Linked DNA regions of Homo sapiens: regions 1, 3, 4, 5, 6 and 7 are each reported to be linked to region 2. Evidence: microRNA targets listed by miRTarBase, many of them from high-throughput screens and not tested one by one. Region 2 holds a microRNA gene; each other region holds the end of a gene's coding sequence. Distances are between the middles of the regions.

Region 1 (4,079 bases), not on the chromosome of region 2:
ATACAGGGAACTGAGCCCCACATCCAATTCCTTACTCCCTTGACAAATAGTCATTAACAGTAATAAGAATATTATTGGTTTGTAAATTGGGTGTTATCTAAGCCAATAAAACATTGTTGATTATAGGTTTGGTGTTTTGACCATTAGCTGACATTTGATTAACCTTTTTTTCTATGATAAGAGAACCATGGTCACTTTTAAGCATATAATGAACTTTTATATTTTTAACAGAAGATAATTGTTTTAAAATATTACACTTATTATGTGTAATTATGTCTACAGGGCTCACTCAGCTATCCATTTTTGTTGTCTGTTGGGGAAATACTCCTTAAGAGGATTGTGTGCACAATATTAAGTTATCATTAATCAAATATTCTCTTCTGGGAGATAATTTTTATGTGTTAAAGTAGTCTCACTATGGAAAAACTTCTAATATAACTATTAAATGTCTCTCCTCACTTACATTATTTTTAGAGTTACTGTGACAACAACATACTTTGGCCACTCTGAACAGATATCCCAGGAGAGGTATCAGTATGTCGACTGTGGAAGAAACACAACTTATCAGTTGGGGCAGTCTGAATATTTAAATGTACTTCAGCCACAACAGTAAAAACTGGAAGAGATGGATTTAAAGAAGAAATATCTATTGATATTTCCTATACTCTCAATGAAGAGGTATTTCCTAATAGGAGACCTTAAATTGAACAAACCTAAAGTTTACACTTCTAAGAGTACAGTTAAAAGTATGTGGACCTGCAGTTCTTGTAACTCTCCACTCTGTGTTAATGATATATTTGTACTAGGATCTTTTACTTGAATCTAAATTTACTGGTTGATTTCCTTCTCCAGCCTATCCCCTACAGGGAAAAGCTGATACTTCCCCTATAGTACAATAAATAATTATTTAAAAGTCATAGCTCCAGTCACTACTGAAAACATAATTTTGGTGATAAACATAATTTGAGAAACTTAATTTCTGAATGTTTTTATAGAAAATTACTGAAAGTCTATTACTCATGGAAGACTTTTAAAGAATAACCTTTTTTCCTGTTTTATAAATTCCCATTGTTATATGGTAGTATTTCAGCTACACAATATTTTAGCTTTTAGCTAGACATTTATAGCTTTTCATTTGTTGAAATGGTAATCATCTGCATGTTTTTGTCACTTATTTCAGGTTAGTGATTGCCTAACACTTATAAGCCAAAATAATCTTTGCAAAATTCCATACCTAAAATTTTGAAAGCCCCTAATGTTTTCACACATCTTTCTGTATTAGTTATAGTTTTGTGAAATCTTTGTGTGATCTTCAAACATTATCATTTAATGTACAATACTGTAAATAAACTGTGCATGGCTTTTATACAGCTTTAGTAAATGTCAAATAAAGTGGTACAGACTCATTACAACAAGTTTCTCATAAAAATACAATAAATAGGAAAATGAAATTCAGAAACCCATAGACTGGGAATAGGTTCCAGTTACAGCTTGGATCTGGCATAAAATAAATTTGAAATAAAATATTTTGATGCTCCATTTTTTTATGTTGCTTTTCATACTAAAGAATGGTGTAGACATGTTTTGCAACTGTTAGGTACCCAGTTATCAATTTTATCAATGTTTTAGAGGAGGAAATTATTTTTTTGGTAGAAATTGTTCAAGAAATCCTTAATTGAATGTCATTAAATGATGGTGGCCAAAATAAAACCTATTTAGAAATTTAATCACTTTGCACATCACTTGGAATATGATGCCTCTAGTAGTTACTTTTTTATAGTTTTCTACTTTTGGTTTTATTTAAAATTGTTTTCAAATATAGATTATTGACTTATTCAACTTTGCTGTTTTATATTTTCAGTATCATTTTTCATTTTTTTTTTTTTTTGTCTTTTCACTTACCAAGTTCTAGGGACATTTAAAATATGTACTAAGTGTAGGAGTGGTTATGATACCAAAAAATGTAGCTGGGTTGAGATTAATTTCGTTCTGTTTTCTCATGACAGAAATCAGGTTTCCCTTTCCCCACCCCTAAGTGCCTAACTTAGGTCTGAAACAGCCTGTTTATTAGTCTGACTCTCTCAACCATAAAACATAAGCTTTATTTAATTCTGCCTTTAAACACACTCAGGTTTCCCCTTAATTTTCATATTATTTTCTGCAAGTTTTCTTGAGTATCTTCAATTCGTTGAATGTGGTTTTTGGTTTTTTTTTGTTTTAACACTAGTCTTCCCTTAATTCATTGCTAACTCAAGCCATCCTTACTATTAAACCCAAATCAGTCCTTTAAGTTCATTATGGCCTTTCTAGTATTTAAAAAAAAAAAAATCATTTTCATTTTTCTTCTGCTACGTTTCCTGACTACTACTGCATACTTCTCTGATACAGGTTCTGTTTGTATTTTTTATATCATTCTCATTTTCTCATTTGACATGATCTATGTCTATATATGATATAGGTCCCCTTTTGTCTCAAAATTTTTAATTATGTGACTTCAAAAATCACCTGTATCTGTAGTAGGGCTTCCAAATCTGCTTCTCCATATGTGACCAGTCACCTGTCTGCTTTCACATTTAGCTAGTGAACTACACATTTACTAAAATGTGTAAATTTTACACATTTAGTGACTGTGTAAAATAAAAAAAAAGTTATTTTATCATATCCTTTCTATTATGTTCCCATCCTGTCCTCATGTCCCATTTACTTTATTATCACCATTCATTTCTTCAAAATTATCTTTTAGATACGCTCATACAAAAATCAATCCTTGTTTTCTTGCTTGTGTCTTTTAACCTTGGAAAATTACATCGTGTAAATTAAACAGATTTTTCTGATGATCTGTGCTTCTTATATACTATTAGAGTGCATGATAGTATCTCCTGAAAAGGATGGAAAGTAGAAGCATTTGCTTTTAGTCACTTAATTTTGAATCTTTTTTCTTCATCTTTTGAATTAATTTTTTTTATTATATCTACTTTTAGTGGAGTTTGAGTCAGAAAAAAACAAGAATTTGAAACAAGTAAAAAGATAGAAGAGAAATAAAGATGGTATGTGACTACTTTCAGAGAGAGTTAAGTAACTGTCAGAATAAGCCTGGAACAAAACAGGCTGTAAATTAATAAAACTACAAACACACATTCAGGTGAAGCAGAAGTATAGCCATAAAACATCTAGAAAGAGTGAATGAGGCTTTTAGCTTTTCTTAGGTCAATGTCCAGTGTGCTTTTTTCCATGGGAATAGGATAGGTATTAATACGCTTTTCTAAACTGCTCTCAGACCTTATCCAGAGGACATGGTAAAGATATGTTACAGAAATTTTTCTGATACTTCCTGGAATAACTTTAAGTTACACCCTAGTAGACTGGTCATTCTAATAAAATCCAGTACTATAACAAACCTCTGTATGTTGATAGCACATTGGCCCTTTTTAGAGTTCTTTCCTATGTTTTTCTTACGTGATTTCCCACAGTTCCATGAGTCCAACAAAGGAGAGTGATAGGCTCCTTATCTTTTAGAAGAGGAAGGAAAGGCATGAAGAAGTTGAGGGACTGGCTGAAGATCACGTACTTACTAAGTAGTACAACTGGAGCAAGATCAAGTATCTCTGTCTCCCATATCTGTGTTCTATCATTTAAAATATATATTGGAAATCCCTGCTGACTCAGATTGGTATGATTAAAAATGAGAGGAAAGTTCAAATAGTTAGTAGTGACAAACTAATACTGCTGGACTAAGATTTTGGTAGCATTGTTTTCTAAAATATTTTAAATGGAGAATGAACACTTATAAAATGCTTTGGAACATAATCTTTAGCTTAATTTTCTGTTAAAATTTAGTACCCCTTCATCATTCCAATAAAGATAAGACTGATCCATTGTCTAAGGAAATTATTTATAAATAATAGAGATTAATTTATTTGAGATTTGAAATAAGAATAGTATGAAAATATTAGATACCACATAAATTGTTTGAAATTACTGAATAACCATCTTAAGTATGGAACATTTAAATGGCTATATTTTATTTGTGTACAGTTTTTCTGTGCCTTGTTAGGCCAGTGAAGCAATTATTTTCTCTA
Region 2 (4,079 bases):
AGCTGAATCACCTCCACTCTGAAGAGCAGCCACTTCTGGGAGGTGGAACACAGGGGGAGGAGGGAATACCCCCTCCTCCATGGTCCTTAAATATCCGTGTGGGGGCACTACTTGAATGTCTGGTTCAGATGAGCCTGGAAATATGACGAGGGTTCTTTGGACTGGGCTGGTAGTTGAGAAGACCATCTGAGCGGGGATGTAATTCTGAAGGAGTAAGGTAGTGGCTTTTTCTTTTGCGCTGGGGGTGCGGGGGCGGAGGGGTGCAGCTGGCTGGGTCATCAAATTAACATGAGAAGGGAATCGTTTTCAGCAGGGAAGTAGGAGATTTGGGGAGGGTGCTTGGAAGATAGAATCAGCATGCTATTGCCACCCCCCACCCCAAATAACCAAAAGGCAAGGAGTACAGACATAGAAATGGGAAGTGAAATGTTGGTATAGACTGTGATTAAGCCTGCTGTTGGTATGAAGTGCTGTCTCACTAAATAAAGCAGAGTGGATGGTGGCTGCATCCCTGGATCTGCCGGTGTGAAGTAAAACCAGGTCAGCTGGCCTGACACCCACTGTCCATATCACTGAAGGTCCTGCTCCAAGAAGGGGGATGGAGAGTCTTCCACAGCCCGGAAAGCATCAGGTTTCTTTGTGTTGCACTTCTCAGAAGGAAATTGTTTCTGTTTATTGCTTAAGTCAACAAGTATTTGTCTCCCTTTGATATAAATGCTGTGGGGGAAGTGGTTACAAGAAAAAAAAATCTGGTCCTGGAATTATAGCCATCTGCTCTCCACAGTCCTCCAAGACTGTCAGTATCTCTCTTTACTCTGAGCTGTGGTCTTCTAGGGACCAAGTTCCAGAAGAATAGCACCTAAAAAGTATTTCATGTCCATCAGCCTTCCCCGGAGATCCATGGAAAGACCACCTCTCTCAGGTTCTACCAGGTGCCCAAGCACTTGTCACATGCAGACATGTATGTGCAGTGTACATGCACATATATGTGCAAAAACCACAACAGTATGCATGTGGGTACCCAGGGTTCTCTCCACATGAGAACCCACGAGAGCCCACGTCAGCTCATGAGCCACATACACAAGGAAACAGACCTTCTTCCTCTCTGTCAAGTCCGAAGATGCCAGCTGAGACGTTCTTCATCCAGTTTAGGGGTGGACCTGATGTCCCTGAGTGTATGTGGTGAACCTGAATTTGCCTTGGGTTTCCTCATATTCATTCAGGAGTGTCAGTTGCCCCTTCACGCGACGTTGGAGAGCATTACAGCAAGCAGGTGTCTACTCATTTATGGCAAGAATGAAGTCCGACTTTTATCTTCATCACCTTGGATGAGCCCTGGTGCTTGCCCTGTTTCTCAAAAGAAACCTAAGGGCAGGGGCAGAACTGGTTATAGAATTCATGGAACCTGGCACAAAATGAACACGTAGGGCCCCTTGTTCAAAAAGCAGGAAGAAAGTGCCTAAATATAATGCCTTTGTCTTTCTTCCACAATCTCTCTCTAGAATCGTCATGGTGGTTTTTTATTTGCTGTTTTTCATGTGGTGCTAAATAAAAATAAAAATTTTAAATTTTTAGCATGAATTTTACCGTTCATCTTTATATTGTGTGATGCCAGTTGTAAATGTAAACACAAGAGCGTTTAACTCATTTGTAGAATCACTGAAATTACACAATTCACATTTCATATGTCGCATATGCATAGGTATTTCATTCTTACCAGAACAATGGAGATGCTGACAAAATGAACTCCAGTGTTTTTATTTCACTTCTTGATACAAGCGCTTTGTACCAGCACTCTCCACCTTCAGCTTGCTGTTGAGGAGAAATAGCTATGGATTGCTCTATCTTCACCTTTCCTTCTGTGTCAACATTTTCAGCATAGGTGTTTGGCAAATACAGGGAAGGAACATAAGTAAGAAATGCTACTTTAGGGTCCCTTAGGCATTAGTGTTTCTTAGAACTCTATTGCCTTCCTTCTGCATTTGAAGCATCTGGTTCAAACAGAAAGCATGACCTCTGGGCACTGTCTGTGTCCCCCGTCTGTGTAGTCATAGGCTTACTTTCCATTCTACTTGCCCCGAGTCTCACTGAGCTCCCACTGGAATTCTGTACGCATGGGCTACTGCCAACATTGTGGGACAGGAACGATGGATGGGCACACACATTCTCTATTATCCCATAGACTTCACTTACAAAACACGGGTTCAAAGACAAAATTTTTAAGAATTTCAAGACAATAACAGTAGAATCTTAAACCAACCATGGAGCTCTTCTGAGCCAAGGGCCCTGCAACTACACAAGTTGCACGCTCCTGAAGTCAATCCAGGTGGGAGGAAGTAAGAAGTAACCTAGACTTCAGGCTGAGAACCCTATTACTCATCTTCCTTCGTCAAGCGAATAATTGAATCCGCAGCAAAAAAAAACTTGAACGGCCTCCATTTTTGACCCATTGGGACTTTCTTCTCCTCTAAGCAAGTCCCACTCTGTGAAAATCCACCACTTCCTGGTGACGCTATCACAGCTTTGAGGGGAGAATTCATCTGCTGATCTCTTCACTGAAGCCGTGGCTTAGAGCCCAAGCCTTGCAGATGAAGCATGGGTTCCAATCCCCACCCACCACTTTCAAGCTTGGTCCCATCCAGGAGATACCCTGACTGATCTGTACTTAGGTTTCACCACCTGAAAGTAATAAAATATATTTGGTTTGATTCATGAATAATTGTGCTAATTATTTAGTGCTGCTTCTTGTTTGTCTCACAACTGCTCTGAGGTCTGCCCAGGGGTCTCCTGGCCCAGGATGACAAGTTCTCAGAAATTACTTTAGCAATTAATTCAATTGATGTTGCTGTGGAAGAAGCAGGGCTTGATGTTTAAAGGGTCTAGAGGAAGACGGGCCTACATTCCTGATGGACCCAATAAAAAGAGTATTTTTCCTGCCTTCATCAACTGCCTTTTGCTCCTCACCTACTAGGGAGCAAAGCTAGAGGGCATCTTAGAGATGTGAGGTGGACTAGTTTGTAAATAAAATAGCATTAAAAATATATCCAACCTAGAGAATGAAGACTATGGACCCTCCATCGTTGGTTGAGGGACTTTGAGAGTTTTTGAGAGTTGTGTTTTTCAAGCTTAATATAGCTTTCCTTTCTAGCCTGTTCCTTCAAGTGACACAAACACCCTTTTTTTTTGAGAAATATTTAGCTTGGTCTAGGCTACTGACAGTACCTAGAAAGAAAAAGAAAAAGAATTATTCTTGCTTATTATTTTATAAAACCTTTACTAGACTTGGAGACTGCTGCAGCGACAGTCCAGTTAGTGGACTGGAAGACCAATCAATGAATAATGATTGACTGTTTACAAATGAGCCTAGCACGGTGCTTGACCCATGGTGGGTGTTTAATAAATGTTAGCTGACTCAGAGTATGTCTCATTATTGTGGCACTATGTTATAGTGAAAGAGCTATGAATTTGGCATCAAACCACATAGGTTCAAGCAACCATGTGGATGTATGCTCTTGGGCAAATTATTTCGCTTCTTCGTAAACTGCTTATCATACCTAAACAATGGGAGTATTCACATTATAATAGCTACCCCACACAGTTATTTTGAGAATGAAATCAGAAGTGAGTTGGCTCATTTTAAAGCACTCTAGATAAGTAAGTGATACATGTGTTTCTGTAATATGTGTGTGCACAAAGGCAGATATTAAAAATTTTTTTAAATCCTGCCTTTTTCTCTTTCCCATCTCACTCAGCAATAGGAGTAGGCATAGGTCTCTGATAGGCTGGATGGCATCCTGAGTACAGTGTAACTGTGGATAGTTTAGGCTTTGCAGCCAAGAAGGCGTGCATTCAAATCTTTCTTAGCTCTTATATGTGGTTGGTTATGTGACTTTTGATAAGTTATTTAAACTCTCTAAGCCTCAGTTTCTTGACATTTAAAATGGGGACCTACCTCAAAAAGTTATTGTGACGATTCATTGAGTTGATATTTGCAAGGCTTGGCTCAGTGCCTGGCACATACCAAATGTCTATCACTTTTATTTTTTATTATTATTTTAGCTATTATACCTCTGGACCAG
Region 3 (4,079 bases), 14 Mb from region 2:
CTGAACGGGATCCCATTGGTTAACATCTCCAAAGGTCAGAGGGGTGAGCCCAGAAGGCCCCATTTCGGGAGCAGCCTGACCAGCCCAGACTCCTACAGTGCTGTGCCTTCCTCATACCTACCTAGTGAGTGCCATATGGTGTGGGCACCCACCAGGCCCTGCCACTTGTTATACCTGAGAAGTCTCATCTCAGCCACTTTGCAGAATTGCTGAACATTAAGTGAGATACTGGTGGAACAATGACTACACATAATAAGTACTAGCTGTATTTATTCTGGCTCAGGACCTGGAGAAAAATGGCCGCCTTCTCCTCCCTGTGGGAGGCTAAGGGCAGATGACTACCTACTTGACTCTGTTTCTCTCTCCTTGCCCTAAAGGTGAATCTGGGCCTCCTGCTATTCTCACTCCTGGGATTCCTGTTGCCTTCCTACCTCTTCTATTACCGTGCCCGGCTCCAGCAGGAGTACGCCGCCAATGGGATGGGCCCACTGAAGGTGCTTAGCGGCTCTGAGGTGACCGCATAGACTTCTCAGACCAAGGGACCTGGATGACAGGCAATCAAGGCCTGAGCAACCAAAAGGAGTGCCCCATATGGCTTTTCTACCTGTAACATGCACATAGAGCCATGGCCGTAGATTTATAAATACCAAGAGAAGTTCTATTTTTGTAAAGACTGCAAAAAGGAGGAAAAAAAACCTTCAAAAACGCCCCCTAAGTCAACGCTCCATTGACTGAAGACAGTCCCTATCCTAGAGGGGTTGAGCCTTCTTCCTCCTTGGGTTGGAGGAGACCAGGGTGCCTCTTATCTCCTTCTAGCGGTCTGCCTCCTGGTACCTCTTGGGGGGATCGGCAAACAGGCTACCCCTGAGGTCCCATGTGCCATGAGTGTGCACACATGCATGTGTCTGTGTATGTGTGAATGTGAGAGAGACACAGCCCTCCTTTCAGAAGGAAAGGGGCCTGAGGTGCCAGCTGTGTCCTGGGTTAGGGGTTGGGGGTCGGCCCCTTCCAGGGCCAGGAGGGCAGGTTCCCTCTCTGGTGCTGCTGCTTGCAAGTCTTAGAGGAAATAAAAAGGGAAGTGAGAGACTGGCTGGTGTGCGCCTGTCTTTGGCGGTTGGTGGGGGGTGTCTTCCCACACCCCCATCCTTCTTCACCCAGGCTCAGCTGGGCATTAACTAGGACGCTTGGCATGCCAGCCCGTTCGCCTCTGGCTGTCTGGCTCACCTCCCTGTTCCCAACCATGCCCTGCCCTTAGTGCTTGGAGGGAGTCCAGCTCCTGCCCCCTACTTCCCAGGATTTGGGGTACATCCAGGAAGCTGGCTTTTCTCCATACAGAGGATTAGGACAGAATGCTTTAGAAAGAATGCTAAGGTATGACTCAAACTTCCCACCATAGCATCCCTAGGGCCTGCCGAAAGTAACACTTTTTTGGAGTCTCCTATTTTATCTTAAAACTTTATGCAAATTTTGAGCTTCCTTGTTATACTATATTTACATTTACCTTTAACATTAAAGTGAGGCTTTAAAGTAAATAAATAAATAACGTGAAGCTTTAAAATTATCTATATCAAGAGAAGACACCATCAGTGAGGACAAGAGATCCTGCAGAAAGACATACCTTATTTATCCAGCCCTGCACCTGCTTGTGCCTCTGGGACATAAGCCCTGGAGGTTAGAGCAAGTCCCCAAATGAAGGGAAAACTAACATTGGTTTAGGATCTGTCTGTTCTACACAGCTATCTCATTTTATCCAAACTATAGCCTAAGAGGTTGGTGTTGTCATTCTTTCTTGTCGCTGTAGGAAACAAGCCCAGAGAGGTTAAGGCACACACCCAAGGGCACACAGTGTTAGGTGGTGGAGCTCAATTTGGAACCTCGGCAGTCTGTGGAAAGGATAGCTCTGCAGAAAGGAGGTCCCAAGCTTCTTTCCGGTTCTCAGCTGCTCCTGGGGCCAAGAGTGACCTCAGAGGCCTTGGCCATCTCCCCCACCTCCAAAGGTTGGCTCTGTAAGACAGCATTCCAGCTAAGCCATTTTCCCTCCCTTTGTCTTTGTTTCTCTTGAGAAGTTAATAAGAGAGACTGTCCCCTCCGTTTTCAGATAGGAAAACCTGTCCTCAGGGGTCTGGAGACTTGGCAAAGTCACATCGCAGATCCCTGCTGCTCTGAGCCCAGACTCCCGACTTCCAACACTGACTTTTTTTGTTTTTGTAAAGTACAAAATCAGAATTGGCTAGCACCCACCAGCGGGTTCGGCTGGCTTTCAGTAGGCTTGCCGGGGTCTCTGCACTCTGTGTCCGGGATCCTCAATTTGCGAATAGTCTGGGGAGGCTGAGCGCGAGCCAGGAGCGGACCCGGGGGTGGGGGTAAGCGCCACGTGCGCGCCAGGTCCTTGGTGTGCCCGGCAGGCGGCGCTGCGTGGCTGCGGCTGGCTCCGAGGGTGCGGGGGGCGGCGACCCGGGAGGGAAAACCCCTGCCTCTTCCCGGGGCTTGCTCTGCCCGTCCTTTAAACTCGCCCTACACCCTCCCCGACTCCCGTCCTTGCAAGCGTTATCTGCAGCCTCACCGGCCCTCGCAACGGTGGTGGTGGTTGGTGGGGGGTCTCGAAGCTTGCCTCTGGCCAGCCGGACCCCGGTGGGAGATGGAGGCAGAAATTCCGGCCTCCTAGGAGAAGGGCGTCTGCTCACTCCCCCACTCCCCGGGGCTTGGGGAGGGGGCTGGGCAGGGGCGGAAGCGAGCTGGAGCCGTGTTTGTCGCGGCGCTGCGGAGTGGAACAGATGGCTGGGGAGGGGAGAGGGTGCGTGGCGGGGAGGAGGAGGGGTGCGGGGGCCGGAGGATAGGGAACGAGGAATTTCGAAGCCTGGAGTCTCCCAGGAGAAGCCCCCCTCCCCGTCTTTTCCCAGAAAGGGGGGCATATATGCGCCTGCCTTTTTCCCGGAGAGCCCTGGCCTCTGCCCTGTGGCAGACCCTGCCGCGCAATCCTCTGCCCCAGGGCGCGCCCCTCACCCCCAAACCCCCGCCGCGGGACGGGGTGGCGGGGTCAGGACCGCCAGGAGCGGCCCGGGTCGCGAGGGTTAATGGGGCCGCCCTCCCAGGGGCGAGGAGGCGGCGGGAAACGGGCTCGGGGTGGGGAACGAGTTCTGGGATCGCAAATAGCAAAGGAAAAACATGTTAATTGGAGCTTTATGCAGATGAGCTAGGACTGGGGACTGTGGGGTAGAAGGAGGGACAAGGTCGGACCTCGAGGAGCGTTGGTGGGCTCTGGCCGGGGGAGTGATGGACGCCTATCCAGGTATCTGCGTGTTGAGCCTCCCGGGAAGGCCGCTGGTGCCCGGGGATGAGAGGCTTCCTCTCTGACCCACCCCCCAGAAACAAGGTTGGGGGCTCTCCAGGGTCTCCACGTCCTCGGTCTCAGATTGCCACGAAGAGAGGGCGGGGTGCACCCTGCAAGTGTCTGCTTCGGTTTCTGGCTGCTGACCTGTCTCACCTTGGCTGTGGCCCCCTCCTCCCCGGTCTGGCTTGGTCTCCACTCACTTTGCCTCCTCTATCTGTTACTCCCCACACCTGGCATCACCCTTTCCACTCGGTATTGTCTGAAACCTTCCCCAAGTGTGACCCCTTCCCCCTTTGCATTTTCCTTTCTGCCCCCCACAGAACCACTCCACCTTTGAGGCGTGTCTCAAACTTTGGAGTGCTTCATAACCCACCTCCGCTTGCTAAAATGCAGATTCCAGGGCCCCCTTAGCTATCTGATTCAGCAGATCTGAGGGGCTCAGGAATCAGCTTCCTACTTAAATCAGATGCAAAAGGCCCTTATTTTATAGAAACACTGGGCAAGGGATTGGTGGGCTGGAAAGATTGGGTAAGTCTCCTTTGACAGCCCCCACCCCTTCCTCAGTGCTCACCTCTCCACACAGGAGAATTGAAACTTTCACCAAGTGCAGTCCTCTCTGCTTCTGTATGATGATACCAGGCGTGGAGAAGATGGAGGGAAGGAAGGAAGGAAGGAAGGAAGGAAGGAAGGAAGGAAGGGAGGGAGGGAGGGAGGGAGGGAGGGAGGGAGGGAGGGAGGGAGGGAGGGA
Region 4 (4,079 bases), not on the chromosome of region 2:
AGGTGCGAGCCACCGTGCCCAGCCGGAATTAACCTCTTATGTGATCATCAGGAACTGCATGTGTTCAATGTCTTGATAATGTTACAATACAAGATGATAAGTTGCTTGGAAACTGACTGCCTGTATTCAGTATATGAATTCAGTTGTGTTAACCTGATATATATCTTAAACATTTCTAGTAAAGATGTTATAGTTTTATGTTGATAAGACATGAACCAAAATTCACATTTTAAAAACAAAGTCTTTTTAAAAAATTACTCAACATTAATGCTATTTATGAAGAATAGCATTTAGTCTAATGTGAAATATCTTTTTAGGAATTTGTCTACTAATTTGTACTCAGTTTGTTTACCTTGCTGTCTCTAAAATCCGAATTCTTAAAATTTAAGGATTGTATTATTTCTTTTAAGAATGAATCCTAAGAATTTTGTAATATGGAATCATTGTCATTGTTTTATTGATAATGGGCATTTTTATTTTTTATATAGATCTCTCTGCAAGAGTAGATGCAGTTAAGGAAGAAAATCTGAAGCTAAAATCAGAAAACCAAGTTCTTGGACAATATATAGAAAATCTCATGTCAGCTTCTAGTGTTTTTCAAACAACTGACACAAAAAGCAAAAGAAAGTAAGGGATTGACACCCTTCTGTTTTATGGAATTGCTGCTGATCATTTTTTCTTTAAAACTTGGATAGATTCCAAAAGTTACAGTACCTTTGTGGCTTCATTGAATATTTATGAAGATAATGTCAGATGTAGACAAAAATAACACAATAACAGGAGACTTCCATAAGTTTGTGTATTATGTTAGTCTATGAAAACGTGCAAATGTATTGTAGAGACTTTATGATTAGAATTGCATATATTTATGAAACTTAAAGATGAATGTTTTATTGAATTTGTAGGTTTAGCACTGTCTTTTATTATAGGATTAGTAAGATATACAAGAAAATAACCACCGTGTTGTGAAAAAGTGACCAAAATCATGTACTAAATGCACAGCTTTATGTACCCTGTCCACCATCTTGTGCCTCTTCTCCATTTGCCTCTTCCTTCCTATTTCCCTTCCGCTAAGGAAAAAAATTGGTGTCACATTTGTAAAAGTAATTTTAATAGTTAATCATCTCTGAGAGTAACCTGTATTTTAATTGTTGAAACTTAACCAAAATAAGATACTGTCTCAGCTAGGGCTTGTCATTTGTGTATTTAGTGTTAAGATAGGAATGCTAGTGTCTCTTTAATTAATTGGAAATAGATGGAGGCTAAAAATGAAGGTTTTTCTTTGAAACTGAATTAACTTGGGAATATTTGTTGTTAAAAACTTCTTTTTGCCCAAAATAACTCATTTTGTATTATCTGAAAATATATAATTTCTGGTCATGTGTATGTTAAAATAGAAAATTTTGAGGAAAAATGGAAATAGGGTGGAAAAGTACTCGGTAAACAGTAGTAACCAAATATTTTCACTCCAGATTTGTGTTTTCTCTGGCACAGAGTAGATCTTTTGGGAAATATATATGAAAGTGGATTAAGTTTGACTACCCTTATGTTAGCCACATCTGGATGAGAACAGTTACAAAGAGTTTGGTCTCTAAGTTGATTTGTACCCAGTGGGTCAACTTCTGCAAAATTCCGTAATGGTGTATTAGTATTAGAATAGTGAATAAAATGGGAAAGTTATACATGTATACTTATTATCTTGCTCAGTATTTTATCTCACTTGTTCTAGAATTTTCTGTAAACCCTGCTACTGGGTTTGAAGAGTTTTAGTCATCCTTTAACAATTTTTAAAAATTTAGCTTCTAGATTCCATTTGGTAAGGAAATCAATATTGGAAGTATTGCTAAAATCTTATAATATGAAAAGAGATCCACTAATGTAGCTTAAGGTTATTAGATTTGGGCTTTTAATCATGGAATAATCTTATGTATTGGTGTAAGAGTTGATGAATGACTTTAGCTGTGTGAATATATAATAGTCAAACTGCAAACATTTTGCATCCCTTTTGTGACCTAATTTACAGACATTTAAATTGTGTTGCAGTTCTGCTTTGCCGTTTAATAAAAAGCTATTTCAGAGGTTGTGTGTGTTTTGATATAGTTGCCTAAGTAAATGGGGTATTTAGGTATAGTGGTGTATCCAGGGTTATTCAATGCCACAGAATAGTGTATCTTATTTAAGTACCCAGTTACTGATTATTTAGGGGAATAATATTTTTATTAATACAACTATAACTGGTTATCAATATAAATATCATAGGCTATTATACATTAATTTGGAAAACAAAAGCAAAGCACTCAAAGGATCCAGTATCTCCAGGGAAAAAGGAAGTTGTATTTTTTAGGGTAGGCTAAGCTACTTTAGCAAGAGACCCAGTGATAAAGAATATAAATATAGAAGTTTCTCTCCCAACCAGTGGTTCCAAGGTCAGCATTGCAGGCTAGCAGCCCTTGTTCAAACAGTTATTCAGGGACTTTGGCTGAGGATGGTGCTGCCATTTTAAATCATGGCTTTCAAGTCACTCTAGTTATTCTTCTAATTTGCAGAAAAAGAACATGGAAGTGTACATATGCAAGGTGTTATGGGCTGTGCCTGGAAATGGCTCATATATCTTCTCATATTCCAGTGGTGTGGAGACTTAGTTACATCTAGATACAAGAGGAGCTGAGAAATGTAGTCCCTGGCTGGGAAGCCATCTTCCAGCTATAAATACAAGATTTTGGTGGCTGCTAGCAGCCTCAGCCACAGCTCTTCTTGTGCTACCAAGTATCTTCCCTTACACAGAAAGTAATCCCTCTTCATCCAGCTAGTGATTCAGCTCACAATCTAGGATCTCTATTAAAGGTCCATCCCTTTACATGTGGCTTCTAATAGTCTGACAATCTCTAAACTGATAGGCAAATTATTTGCTCTCACCCTTGCTGCTGCCCATTTATAATGTAGTTGGGACAGGATGGCCAAATAAAAAGTCTCAATTTGGAAAATGGAATAAAGGGAAACGTAAAAATTGTGGAATGCTCCTGGGAGATGTATGAAGATTTTGTCCCTAGCAGTGGAGAAGTTCCTTGATTCAACTATGATTCTGATCTCTGGCAGGGGACTCCCTTGTTCATTGAACTCCATGGTTTCCCCTCTGGAAAGTTACTCCTTATCCATTTTCTTCCATGGCTACCTCAGAAGTAGAGATTGGGTGTTCACTCCATGGGAATTGTGAAGACAGTCCACTTCCTGCTGGTGTGAATTTGGTGCCCATCATTTTAAGGCCAAGCTCATGTTTCTGTGGAATACGATTCTCTCAAAAACTCAAGCCTTTTTATCAGTGTGCTTCTGATTGCATATGCCGAGGAACCACAACCAAGCTTTTGACCAAATTCTCAAAGTATGTATTATTTTTGCCTTTCTTTAATGGAGGCTATCTTGAGATCAACTAAAAATAAGATTACACTGGGAATGTTACATGCAGATCATCACTGCAAAGCTGGGTTCCTTTGGCTTAACGATTGGTAGAGAAGTCTTCATGGGCTTCCCCCCAATCTCCCCCACCTCAAAAATAATTTTGAACCTTTGCTGCTATTCAGACTTCAGAAACAATTGGCTTAATTTCATGAGGTTCCTTGTATCAAAACTTTGTCTATTCCCTTCTATCTTTGCTTGAAAATGTCAATTTTTTTGATACCTTGCTGAAAGCAAGGAATAGCCAATTCACTTAACATTCTGGCTTTTTCCAGCTAGAGCTATCAGATTAGTAGGTGTCAAAATATATCCCCACTGCTTGTCATGTTAATGGTAAGCTAATGCTATATACTTAGTTTTTGCTATGCAATACTTCAGGATAATTTCTTCATTAGAAATATAGGTGGTACACAGTGTGCACAGGGACTGTGTCCAGCTTCTGGAAAAGACTCGACCAAATTTTAGACAGGCACCTCTGAGCCCTGTTTTTGACTAGTCCAGTTTTAGCAAAAATCCTGCTAAATGAGTTTAGAGATAATCCCATCCTCAATAACTGATGATCGTCAACCTGGCCTGTCTTTGGCAAGAATCACCCTACTCTTGATGTCTCCAGTTAGTAGTTTTCC
Region 5 (4,079 bases), not on the chromosome of region 2:
CCATAGGCTGGGAACTTGCTCATACCAGCAGGTACTTCGGACTTTCTGGTAAGATCGAGAAGACATCCCACTCACCAGCATTCTCTCCTTTTCAAATCATCTTTCTTTTCTACCAAATTGGAATTCAGATTGGGCAGAGACCCCAGAGGTCACCAAAGCCACTCGTCTCCCCAGGACAGGGAACTGCGGGGTCACAGCCAAGAGCCTAGTGCAGCACTCTCAAGTTCCAGAATACCTGCCCAGCTCAGCCTAGAGAAAGACACTGCCATCTTTTCCTGCATGCGGATCGGTTGACGAGACCAAGGCCCACACCTGAAAACTCTTTCCAAAGGCAGGCAGAGCCATCCCATTCCGTAGCAGCCCTCCAACAAATGGGTGGACATTTCTCATGCCATGACCCCCAGCCATTGACGTGGGTGGAATTTACCAGCACCAGCCGGCCACTGACTGTCTCCTTCCTTCCTTCCTACCTTCCTTCCACGTTTCCTTTCCTTTCCCTTCCTTTCCTCCCTCCCTGCTCCCACCTCGCGCCCTGTCCCTCCACCTCCCACTCCAGATCCGGGTGGTGAAAGCGTTCCGTAGCTCGCTCTATGAAGGCCTGGAGAAACCAGAATCCAAGACCTCCATTCACAACTTCATGGCCACGCCCGAGTTTCTGATCAATGACTACACCCACAACATCCCGCTCATTGACGACACGGACGTGGACGAGAACGAGGAGCGCCTCCGGGCCCCCCCGCCCCCGTCCCCCAACCAGAACAACAACGCCATAGACAGCGGCATCTACCTGACCACGCATGTCACCAAGTCAGCTACCTCTTCAGTGTTTTCCTCCAGTCCCGGGAGCCCGCTCCACAGCGTGGAGACGTCCCTCTAACAAGAACTTGTCTCAGCACATGCGCACACGCACACTCGGACTCACACGAAGTCACACGCACACATGCACGCACACACACATATGGGGACCTGCACACCTGCAAAACGAGGGAACAACTAAGGTGGCTGAAGACCTTTCTGGCAGGGCATTTGCAAGGACCCAAATCCATTCAACAAGGGTGCAGCCTGCCACAGGCTCCTCATCCGGACTGAGGAAGACGAGGACAGGGAGGAGGAAAAGGAGGAAGAGGAGGACAAAAAGGGGGAGGAGAAGGTTCTTCGTCCAAAGGAGGAAGGAGAAGAAGTAGAAAGTGCGAAGAGCTGAGTTCCCCACCTTTTTTTCTATTGATGCTTCTTTTTTAACAAACTACAGTTTTACCGTGTGTTTGCCATTTGAGCTGTGTGGTGGGCAGGGGGCTGGTTTGGGTTTATGGGGAGCTTTTGTTGCACCCATGCAGGGGCAATCAGATCAGCATCTTCATGCAAAAAAAAAAAAAAAGTTGAGTGCTCTGCAGGCCTGTGAAGGGTGCCACCTGAGGGAGCCGCCTGCAAGCGGCCCTGCAGCCACAAAGCAACCCGCCCTCTGCAAAAACTAGGCACATCCGCAGTGCGCATGTGTGTGCGTGCATGCACATATGTGTATGTGTGTGGATCTGTACACACACACGTATATATGGCCAGATGCGTATTTCAATAAGGAACTATTTACTGGCATGATATTTGCATTCCTCTTATCAGGCATTTTCATTTGGAAATTTCATTATTGAATGTAGCAAGGTTGTAGTTGTTTTTTTTTTTTTTTCAGGGAACTAGACTGCAAGAATATCTTTCTGGTCAACCCATTTTTGTCCCTCATCACCCCGCCCCCACCTTTCGCTCCTGCCCTCTGCCCGGCCCTACTGAGATTCCCAAGGAGAAGGCCGAGAGGGGGCGCTCCAGGTCTGGAGCAGGTATAATTGGAGCATTTGCACTGAGACCCCTGCCAGAGAGGAGAAAACCCTTTCAAGGGAAATTTTAATCTAAAAGGAAAAAACCAAAATATTGATGAGAAGGAGTCCTCCAGTTAGTGAAAGGGGAGTTTCGTTTTCAGCTTTCTTTGGTTCCTACTCCAATTCCACATCCTTCATCCTGGCCATGCCCCCACCTTCAAGAGCATGAAGCACTCTTGGAGTTGTGGGTCCTGCCCAGAGTCCAGAGAGCAGCCTCAGCTGAGCACAGGTCCGAGGGGGCGGGGGCAGGGCCAAGAGTTCAAAAGAAGCCAATGGAGGGAGAGGGAGCGTCAGAAGCCCGGAGGAGCTGGTGGTGGGAGAATGACGGCAGGGACGCAGCCACAGTTCAGACCCTGTCCCCTCAGCACCTGGATGGACTCCCACTGTTTGCTTTGGCAAATGCCGAGGAGTCCTCGGTAGACCACCTTGATGTCTGCTGTGACATCAGAGGTGCCACCACCAAAGCACTCTTCCCACCCTAGTCTTTGTGTCCAGCGGCCAAGCTTAAGCCATGAAGTCATGGATTTGTGGCTCAGCACCAGGTCCTGAGGGGAGCGTATCCTGGCAGTGTGGGCACCTGGTGGCCAAGCCTCAGTTTCCCCCAAATGAGCAAAGGGGATAAAGAGGGGCCCGACTTTTGCCACCCTCCTGAGGAAGCCCCTAGGTCCACACAGTGATGCCATGGGGGACCCTTGCCTTCCACACTTGCAGGTGTCACGTTTTGCAGGGAGGTGTTTGGGCCTTGGGCTCAGCCACTGGGAGACAGTTGGGACCTGAGGGACAGAGGATCGGAATGGAAACCACCAACGTGCACTGGCACCCTCAGAAGGCTTGTCTCACCTCCACCGGCATCCACACAAAACCAAACAGGAGCAGGCGTCATCCCCACTATTCCCATGAATGCCATGTCACCCCTGAGCAGAAGCAGTCAAATCTTGGGCAAAAGAATTTCGGTTAGAAAAGAAAATCCCACTTTAAAATGCCAGCTGCAGATAACTCAAAGCCATCCCTTTTTTCTAAAGGGCACATTGAGAATGTCACCCATTTGTAAACTGTTCCCTGATGTCCTTGTTTAAACGATAATAAGAAAAAGGGCAACTCCATTTGTTGAGGGTCTTTGTGTTCTTCAATGAGAAATCAAATTTGAGACGTTGAAATTGGAGCTGCGTGCTGCTGCACTCACCGGCTTCTTCTCACTCTCTGTCGTAGACACACCGATAGGACCAATGGCCAATAGATATTAAAAGCAAACCCTCACTGCTGCTGTATAAAGTTGCCTAATGTAAATGTCTATTGTTTAGTCCCTAGGTCACCTTTGTGCTGTGCTGTGGAGTTCAGAAACGGGGTACCATGACCTGGAATCTTTTGCTCTTGTTTTTGCAGTCTTCAAGGCTGGGGGCCCTGTCTCATTGGGAAGCCCCTCTTTATAAAGCATTATATTACTTGGAATGGCTTGGTCAACTGTGTTCAGTTCATAAATATGTTTTACATTTTTATCTGCCTGTTATAAAGATGAACAAAAAAACTTAATGAGAAAGATCACAGATACGTAATAATTTAAAGTCTGTAGTTGAATTTCCTAACTTAAAGAATAGACCAAAATTTCTGTGTATAAAAAAAAATGAAAGGCTCCTTACATCCTGGTCTGGGTAACGTGTGTGATTTATTATTTGGTGAATTATTGTGCAGAACAAAACAAAGGTGCCTTCATGCCTCTTTAACAGAGCTGGAGAAGCCCCGGGCAGGAGGGGCTTTCCCCTGGGTGTGCAGCAGCCTGGCCGGATGTGTATGCAGAAGAGGAACTTATGCTGGGATGTTAGGCCCCCAGTGGGAGGGGCTCCAGCTGCTGCAGGAGCCGCGGCTGTCTTGACTTGAAAGGGCCTCTAGTACACGGCGCGGTGGCTCAGTCCTGTAATCCCAGCGCTTTGGGAAGCCGAGGCGGGAGGATCCCTTGGGCCCAGGAATTTGAGGCTCCCCGACACACATGCACGCTCCCCACTTCTTTTATTGTGGTAGAACACAGATCACATAAAATGTACCACGTTCACCATTTGTAAGTGTGCGGCCCAGGGGCAGAAGCACATTCACGGTGCTGTGCAGCCATCACCACCGTCCAGCCGCAGAACTTGTTCATCTTCCCAAACTGAAGCTCTGGCCCCGTTCAACCCCAACTCCCCACCCCCCAGCCCCTGGCACCCAATCTTCTACTTTCTG
Region 6 (4,000 bases), not on the chromosome of region 2:
ATCATCAAACTATCCTTAGGGTCAGAATGAAGTGCCTCTGACAGGGACTCACTATACAATCCATGCATATTATGACAAGCCTCCAGTATACACACACTGGTACAAAGGATTTTATAATGAGGTTTATTATCAAATTCTAGAAAAGTGAAAGTACAAGAAAATGCTTCTAGTTCAGGCGGCAGGTCTCCAGTAGTTCAGTCAGTAGGTAGAGAAAGACAGTTTTCTCATAGTTACAGAGTAGAAAAACTATTGATGCTATCAAGTGCGTCAGGTACCATGTTCTGAATTCCTTTGGCCACAGATAAATTAATAAAGGCTTAGGATTCTGGGAAACCATTATATAAGACCCAAGTAAAGTAACCTCCCTCCATTCTTTAGAATTTGAAGCCTTCTGGAAAAAGCCAAAGTGTAGAACAAACTCCCCAGCCACCTACAGAAATCTCACTAACATCTTCAAACTGGAAATTTACCTAGACCATTTCTAAGGTGTAATGCATTTAAGGTTTCCCAAAAATAAAATACAGAGCAGGGTAGGCGTATCACTGTCATAAGTTATGTTTGGAAAGTGTAAATGAGGATGCTGTAACAGCCTTATTTGGAGGGTTGGAAAGTTGTGTGTGGCTGGCATTTTGGAAATTGGAGAGAAACTCTTCTAATTTTTCTAGGCTATGTAAGCCCCCCTACGATAGCCATATGTTCTCTTAGCCCAAGCAACATCATTTGACCTCAGCACTCAACTTCCACATTGATGCTCAATAGTTCCTGAATTTTAAAACTCAAATATAAAGACATTTTTAGATTACTACTCACCTTCCTCAGGACAAGCTCTTCTCTTAAGAGACTGTACATCCAGTGTTCTTAATAGGATAATTCATTGTAACAAGAAATGCTAACTGTTCTCTCTGCGGCTTCTCCCTAGATCTGCACAAGGGAATGAACAACATGGCCTTTCCCTGTCTTACCATTTCCCAGAGTTGTAGCCAGCCAAATAGTTTAGTGACCCTGTTGTTCCCTACCATCGCCCCTGGGTGGGATCATTTAAACAAAGCCTAAGCTGAGGGAACACTTGAGGTCTTTTTTTTTTTTTTAAGCCCAGTGGAAAAACAAACATACATTTACAATGACTTAGAACTTTCAAGTTCTTTTATTATAAAAGTCTGTACAATGAAGTGCCAGACACAGCAATGCCATTATACTGGTGGACATATATATCTATATATTATTTGTATATAGATATACAGTTTTTATTTGTACCAAAGTAAAACTATCACCAACTGCCTAATTCTACCAGCTACTGCTCAACTATGACACACAATACTGTCACAGAGCATAAGTGCTGCCATGCCACTTTTACATATTCTACTCACAGCCAAACATTAACATTGAATAACATATTGAAGCAGCTGTTAATTCTAAAATGAAACCAGTCAGACCACTGACTTATAAAAATATGGTACTCATATAGATTTAGCATTATAAAGAAGGAATATATTATTTAAAACATTTAAATAGTGCATATGGACATTTTTGCATGTGGTATATAAAATAAAACATTCATATAAGATACACAGTGCACATAAAATTAGATGTTTGGATACACTCCTATCTGGAGACTGAAGGAAATTATCTGAAATGTACACTGCATGATGGATTCAAATAAAAATGATACATCTTTTGGTATTTTCAATTTCACTTTTCTAGGTATACATTATGAATAACCTAGTTGTATCAAAAGGAAACCACACAAAAAGGGCAGGATTTAGTGCTTTTCTTTATTCCCCAACTACACATTCACTACCAGGTTTTCCCTCACCCCCCACCCCCCAGAAAAAGGCATTGCACACACGGGTGAAATGTGAAGTACTAGAACTGCTATTTATTATCAAACTACTTCATGTGCTTACTATGTAATAGTGCCAGAAGTCTGAGGTTCATGCTTCCCTCACCTTATTAAAGGATGTTGCAAAATTCCATTTTTATATGGAATAAATTGTTAATATTAGCTAGTTAAGAAAACCATGCATGAGTCATTGCATGCAAAACATGGGTATAGTCAAAGTGAGACAGTCATCAATCCAAAAAAGCACCAGAAAAAAAAGTTAACACTTAGATTAAGCCTGACCCAAATCTGCTGTTGTACTGTTAGCACAAATGAAGTCACCATTCTGTAACAATGATTAGCAGAATGATACCGAGACAGTACCTGAAGAAAAGCCATGCAAAGCCAAAGGAAAAAAAGATATGCTAAGAGTATATGACAAGGGGCATACCACTACACATCCTGTAAACAGCTGCTTTAAACAGCATGTTATGATTGACCAAAGGGTGGTCCCTTAAGAGGGCGTTGTTGTCGTTGTTTTGGTATGGATTTTGCTGATTAAAATAGGAGGGGAAAAAAAAAAAGATAACCCCCTGAAGGTACATGTGAAAATGCAGTGGTAGAGCCCTTGTTAAGAACAGATTTACTTTAGGCATAATATTTTGCTGATTTAAGCCCATTGATTGAACACACAAATCTGAGCACCATCAGAGTTCCTACATACTGACATGGCTATTTTCTCACATTATCTGGAGGTGGGTTGGGGAATAGCGCGGATCTGATCCAGACAAATCACACCATTGCCAGCGGATAAACAGTAACTCAGGAAACAGTAACTGAAGTCCCATAGGCAGCATGTGGTATGATTCAGTTCTGTGTGTGATGTGTGGTGTGTGTTTTCAATATACTAAGCGAGGTCACCTTTTGGTCTACCAACTGTTATCTTCATCCGGGAGCTGTGTGACCAGCGAATTGCAAAATTTTACTAACATACTACCTGTGAGAAGATGTCACTTTGGGAATTAAACAGAAAGGTGTTCCATAGTACGACTTGAAATCTCAGTTTGATTTTGGTTTTCTAGGAAAACAGAGAACACAGTTGCGTATGTGCACTTTTATAGGCTTTTCTTTCAAATTTTCAGTCATTCTGTAAGAAAAAGGCAACAGAAGAATTCAGTATGAAGATTTTCCTCCAATTTTCTTCAGTAATGAGAAACAAAAAGTTGGTAATAACAAAAAGCTTGCATTTCCAAAGTTCTTGAAGTTGAAAGGATAAAATTCCAGTCTTTTGCTAAAAGGATGTATCTGTAGTACAAAACAATGAAGTAAACCATATGTTTGCTAAAGGTGGAGAGGACAGTCTGTGGTTAATATGGAACATCACTTACGCTCCCTTGAGAGGGCCTACTTACTCTCCCATCATTTGTTTTGTTTAGTGGCACCACAACCAAGTACAAAATGAGATTCTCTGAGTGCCTGACAAAACGAATTTAAGTACCAGCCAAGTACACACGATGATAGCTTCAAGGAATACAACTGACTTTATGATATGAATTTTCAAGGAACGTATCTTATATGGATTTTGAAGAATCTTGTTTGCTTATAAGAACTTCAAGAAGCCTAAGCTTGGCTTTAATTTTCTTGTACTCTCTGTACTCCTCAAGCACTGGAACACGATCCTCTTTCTGGGCATTCCTAGGGGAGAAAATAAAATTTGTAATGTTCTAGAGATCATTTGGAAAAAAAGATCCAAAAGTTGTCTTAATATGAGACATACTGTTACTAAACATAAGTTCAAATAAAAAGTTGTTCTGTTAAAAAAAAAAAAAAAGGTTATTGAACTAATACCCTCATCCCCAAGGAACACTTCTAAAATTTTTGATGGACTTCTCTACTGATAGATTAAATGATGCTATACTTATAAATAATCAACATAGATAACTGGAGGAAACCCAGTATTTTAACAGGACATCCAGTGCTAGACTCTGCCAGGTCTGTGAGTGTCTATTAAGTGTTGGAGGCTACACTGAGTCATTTAATACATTTAGTTAACTGCGGCTCCAGTGAATTGAGATGTAAAAGTAAACTATCTTATCTGCAACAAGAGTAATTTTCTAACTTTATAGTAATGACCCAATGCAATTCAGTTTAATCGCTAGCTAAAGCATCAAACTATCCTAA
Region 7 (4,079 bases), not on the chromosome of region 2:
AGCAACCGCCCGCTCCGGTGTCCTGGGCTGAGGAGCCGGGAATGGACTTGTCCAGTGTTGTATTCAGGGAGGCTTGCTGAAGAAGGATTCCATCCAATCTACTGACCTTGTGCTCCTGTTGCTTAGGGGACAGAGCACTGGTGTTGGGGGGTGTGGGGCACCATTATAAATAGGGAAATACACAGCCTCCCCTACTCTGGGACTTTCTATGGCCTAAAGATACAGCGAAGTGCAAAAGGAGGCACTGGCCATGCTGCAGGCAGATTCTGAAGAGGTGAAGTTTCAGTAGGTGGCTCCCAACTCAACATGTGCAAATATAAAGATACCCAGGCTCCAACACAGAGATTCTGCTTAGTTGATTTGGGATGGGGCCCAGGCAGTTGGATTTGCTTAATAATGACTCCTTAGCTGGGTTTGAGAACCACCAGGTGAAGCCAGATTGGGAGATAGGGAGAGATCAAGCTGAGGTGAGAGGGGGCTGGGGAGGACACAGTCAGTGCAAAGGCCCAGCGTTGCCAGGAAGGGAGAAACGGCGCGCGGCCGAGGGCCTGTCCAGTAGGCTCACGCCCCCTCTCGGCCGCAGCGGGAGATGCAGGCGCAGGACAGGCAGCTGGCAGGGCAGCTGCTGCGGCTGCGGGCCCAGCTGCACCGACTGAAGATGGACCAAGCCTGTCACCTGCACCAGGAGCTGCTGGATGAGGCCGAGCTGGAGCTGGAGCTGGAGCCCGGGGCCGGCCTAGCCCTGGCCCCGCTGCTGCGGCACCTGGGCCTCACGCGCATGAACATCAGCGCCCGGCGCTTCACCCTCTGCTGAGGAACACCTGTGCCCCCCGACTCCCCGCCCCCTCTCCCAATGCCGCTTCCCCTGCCTGCCTGGGAAGAGGAAAGGGAGGGGTGCCCCAGAGGCACCAGCTCCTGGCGGGGGAGGAGGAACATTCAGGTTTCTGAGAGCTGAATTCCAAGAGTGCAAAACCCCAGCATCCTGTTTCCTCTGCTGACCCAGCTGGGAGGGGGAGGAGGAGGAGCTCACACCCTCAAACTCCTCAATAAACGCTTTCTCTGGTTCCCATCAAGGTCTCTTGCAGTCGTTTATTCAGGCCCAAGGCCGCTATCTGAATGTCGCCTGTCACTGGGACCACCCTAGTTCACTGCAGGCCCATGGGAGGTGACTTAGGTAAATTGGGCTCCTGAAGAATGCAGAATCTGAGAGACATGGGTTCAAAGCCAGCTACCCCGTTTATTTCTTTTTGTTGTTGTTATTTCTTCTGCTTCTTTTTTTTTTTTTTTTTTTGAGGCAGAGTCTCACTCTGTCACCCAGGCTGGAATGCAGTAGCACAATCTCAGCTCACTGCAACCTCCGCCTCCGGGGATCAAGCGATTCTCCTGCCTCAGCCTCCCAAGTAGCTGGGATTACAGGCGGCCACCACCTCGCCTGGCTAATTTCCTTTCTTTTCTTTTCTTTTTTTTTCTTTTTTTTGAGATGGAATTTCACTCTTTCGCCCAGGCTGGAGTAGTGGCGCGATCTTGGCTCACTGCAACCTCCACCTTCTGATTTCAAGCGATTCTCCTGCCTCAGCCTCCCAAGTAGCTGGGATTACAGGTGGCCACCACCTCGCCTAGCTAATTTCCTTTCTTTTCTTTTCTTTTTTTTTTCTTTTTTTTGAGATGGAATTTCACTCTTTCGCCCAGGCTGGAGTAGTGGCGCGATCTTGGCTCACTGCAACCTCCACCTTCCGATTTCAAGCGATTCTCCTGCCTCAGCCTCCCGAGTAGCTGGGATTATAGGCACCCGCCACCATGCCCGGCTAATTTTTGTATTTTTAATAGAGACAGGGTTTCAGCATGTTGGCCAGGCTGGTCTCAAACTCCTGACCTCAAGTGATCCACCTGCCTGGGGTTTCCAAAGTGCTAGGATTACAGGCCTGAGCCACCGTTTATTTCTATTCGACCCTGAGGAGCTCCCTTAACCCCTGAGTCTGTTTCCTCACCTCCACAATGGAGATGCTGATTCTCACTCCACAGGCAGCAGATGTGCCTTACGGGAGATAGTGCACAGTGAGCGCTCAGTGAATATGAACTATTACTCACTCCCAGCGCGGCAGTCTTTCTACTCTGTGCTGAGACAGGGAGATGGACCGTGAAGTGTTCAGGCTTACATTGCAAGGGAGTCTGGGCCCTGCACCAGGCTTGGAGCTCCAACTCTAGGCTCTGTGTCACTGTGAAGGTTTTTCACTTTGTCTCTCTCAGCCTTTGTTTCTGTGTTACCCTCTTTGTCTGACTTTCCAACTCAGGCTTCCTCTTCCCCCCACCTATTTCCTGCCCCCACTTCTCTCTGCAGCTGAGGTGCACACAGCATCGCTTCCACCTCACAAGCCCCAACAATGCTCTGTGGGTTCCCCTCCCCCTACCAGCTCACTCAGGCAGTGACGCATGTGCACTTTCCTCCTGGTGGGGTCAAGGCCGAGTTCTTGGACCTGATGAGGCCACCTGGAGTTCCTCATATCACTGGTGACCTGGCCCTCAGCTAATGATGGGTGCCCCCTCAGCCTGGCCCCAGGGGAAATGGAAATTCTTTGCCTGCCTGCTGCTCGTGACAATCTTCTTGCCTCCTGCTTATAACAGAAAGTCCTGACAGTCTGTGGCCTGCACCTGGGGGCCTGAGCGGCCCTGTTTGCTCTGTCTTCCACCTGTTGCAGGAGATAGTGCCAAGCCCTCCACCTCTGCCAGGGGCTGTGGCCTTGCCTCTACCTGAATTCGAACTGTTGCCCTACTCTCCAACCATGATTAATGGGTGTTGTCCTGGCCTCTGACTACAGCAGGGGCCGTTACTATGCCCTCTTGAAGACATGAGGTTGTCCTGTCTGCCTCCTGAAACAGGCTGTTTTCCAGCATTCTGTCTGTAAGAGGGATGGTAGCCTGCCATTCACCTACCCTTGACTATAATAAAGCTACTGTTCCATGCCCTGAGATGACATGGGAATTGTTCTCTCGGCCTGACCTGACTGTAACATGCATGGTCTGCTCACCAGCTATTTAACAGGGATATTGTCCTCTCCTCTGACTCTGAACGATGCTACCTTTGCTGCCAGACAGAAACAAAAGGGTCTCTCAGCTGCAACGGTGGTGCTGAGGTGCTGTTTGCCTCTCACCATAAGCTGAGTGTGTGTCCGCTTGCCCCCTGCTCACTGGGCCCAAAGGCTGCCCTTGAATCTCTTGCCCAGATGCACCCTGGAGGGCAGAAGGGAGGGTCTATCAGACATCCTCCCCTCAACTTTAAACCTCCCAGTGTCACCCTGGGACAGTAGGGGAAGATGGACCTGGTCTGGAGATGTAGGGGACCCCCAGGGGCTGAGAGGCAGGGGTCTATGGTGGCAGGAAGCTTGGCGTGCTAGAGGGTTGTGGTTGGGCTGCTGGGGCCCGGTTGGCTGCGGAGCCCTCCGGAGGAGGCAGGAAGTCAGGGTGGGACGTGGGCGCGGGGAGACAGGTGGTGGCTACGACGGCGAAGGGAGCTGAGACTGTCCAGGCAGCCAGGTTAGGCCAGGAGGACCATGTGAATGGGGCCAGAGGGCTCCCGGGCTGGGCAGGTAAGGAGCGCTGGTATTGGGGGCGCAGGCGCCGGGGTGAGAGGCCTGATAGCAGACGGCTGCAGCTGTGCGGGCCCAGGCTCCCTAGGGATGCAGCAGCCCTTTGTGGCTGGGGAGAGAAGATCCTCGCTCAAGGTCAGGTGGGAGGCAGGCAGTGTAGCTGGGTCGCCTCTTTCCTGCGAAGCTGGTGTCGCTTGCCTCTGTCGTGCTGTCCACCAGTGGCCCCACCTGACTGGGAGCGTGTTTCCTGGACACCAGGCACATGGACAGTCAGGTGTTAAAAAGGCTTCCAGAAACCACCAAGCCCAGTCCCTCAGGCCATGAGGATGAGGCTCCTGAGGCCCAGAGAGAACAAGGCACTCACTGCCCACGGTTTCTCAGCAAGGCAGTGGCAGGGCTGAGAGTGATGGCTGAGGCTGTGGCCACCCCGCCTGGAGCAGGGTGATGGACAGGCTGGACTCAGAGGACCCAGGAATCCTTCTGGTTTCTGGGGCA

What was found. Region 2 holds the annotated microRNA hsa-miR-670-3p (UUUCCUCAUAUUCAUUCAGGA, at 1,205-1,225, shown strand). A microRNA usually pairs through its seed, bases 2 to 8, with sites in the 3' UTR of a target mRNA and lowers its output. Matches are read on the target gene's strand: a 7mer-m8 pairs with bases 2 to 8, a 7mer-A1 pairs with bases 2 to 7 and ends in A, and an 8mer does both.
Region 1: miRTarBase lists TMEM106B as a target of hsa-miR-670-3p. Seed matches in the 3' UTR shown: 7mer-A1 at 1,632-1,638 and 7mer-A1 at 3,687-3,693.
Region 3: the mRNA of SLC43A1 is a reported target of hsa-miR-670-3p. Seed matches in the 3' UTR shown: 7mer-A1 at 684-690 and 7mer-A1 at 1,061-1,067.
Region 4: miRTarBase lists SCOC as a target of hsa-miR-670-3p. Seed matches in the 3' UTR shown: 8mer at 1,405-1,412.
Region 5: miRTarBase lists ATP2B3 as a target of hsa-miR-670-3p. Seed matches in the 3' UTR shown: 7mer-m8 at 1,087-1,093, 7mer-A1 at 1,109-1,115 and 7mer-m8 at 2,515-2,521.
Region 6: miRTarBase lists FAM13B as a target of hsa-miR-670-3p. Seed matches in the 3' UTR shown: 7mer-A1 at 3,006-3,012.
Region 7: miRTarBase lists FAM167B as a target of hsa-miR-670-3p. Seed matches in the 3' UTR shown: 7mer-A1 at 881-887.

What each region holds. Positions count from the first base shown.
Region 1 is chr7:12,231,363-12,235,441 of GRCh38, forward strand. TMEM106B (transmembrane protein 106B) reads left to right here. Exons shown (of 8, transcript NM_001134232.2): 8 at 475-4,079. The coding sequence ends at 613. Among named protein-coding and RNA genes, the nearest start is that of TMEM106B, 22 kb to the left of the region's middle.
Region 2 is chr11:43,558,510-43,562,588 of GRCh38, forward strand. It overlaps MIR670 (microRNA 670), which reads left to right and starts at 1,147; the gene lies at 1,147-1,244. It also overlaps a transcript of HSD17B12 not described here.
Region 3 is chr11:57,481,541-57,485,619 of GRCh38, reverse strand. It overlaps SLC43A1 (solute carrier family 43 member 1), which reads left to right. Exons shown (of 15, transcript NM_003627.6): 15 at 378-1,086. The coding sequence ends at 524. Among named protein-coding and RNA genes, the nearest start is that of RTN4RL2, 23 kb to the right of the region's middle. RefSeq lists a silencer at 2,276-2,605.
Region 4 is chr4:140,380,474-140,384,552 of GRCh38, forward strand. It overlaps SCOC (short coiled-coil protein), which reads left to right. Exons shown (of 4, transcript NM_001153484.2): 4 at 489-4,079. The coding sequence ends at 631. Among named protein-coding and RNA genes, the nearest start is that of SCOC, 8.9 kb to the left of the region's middle.
Region 5 is chrX:153,579,422-153,583,500 of GRCh38, forward strand. ATP2B3 (ATPase plasma membrane Ca2+ transporting 3) reads left to right here. Exons shown (of 22, transcript NM_001001344.3): 22 at 557-3,508. The coding sequence ends at 877. Among named protein-coding and RNA genes, the nearest start is that of CCNQ, 18 kb to the right of the region's middle.
Region 6 is chr5:137,936,835-137,940,834 of GRCh38, forward strand. FAM13B (family with sequence similarity 13 member B) reads right to left here. Exons shown (of 24, transcript NM_001385994.1): 24 at 1,126-3,514. The coding sequence ends at 3,391. The region is part of intron 14 of PKD2L2 (polycystin 2 like 2, transient receptor potential cation channel); the gene reads left to right. Among named protein-coding and RNA genes, the nearest start is that of PKD2L2, 49 kb to the left of the region's middle.
Region 7 is chr1:32,247,788-32,251,866 of GRCh38, forward strand. It overlaps FAM167B (family with sequence similarity 167 member B), which reads left to right. Exons shown (of 2, transcript NM_032648.3): 2 at 584-1,069. The coding sequence ends at 814. LCK (LCK proto-oncogene, Src family tyrosine kinase) reads left to right here and starts at 3,478. Exons shown (of 13, transcript NM_005356.5): 1 at 3,478-3,584. RefSeq lists enhancers at 693-852, 2,081-2,290, 2,481-2,690, 2,741-2,830.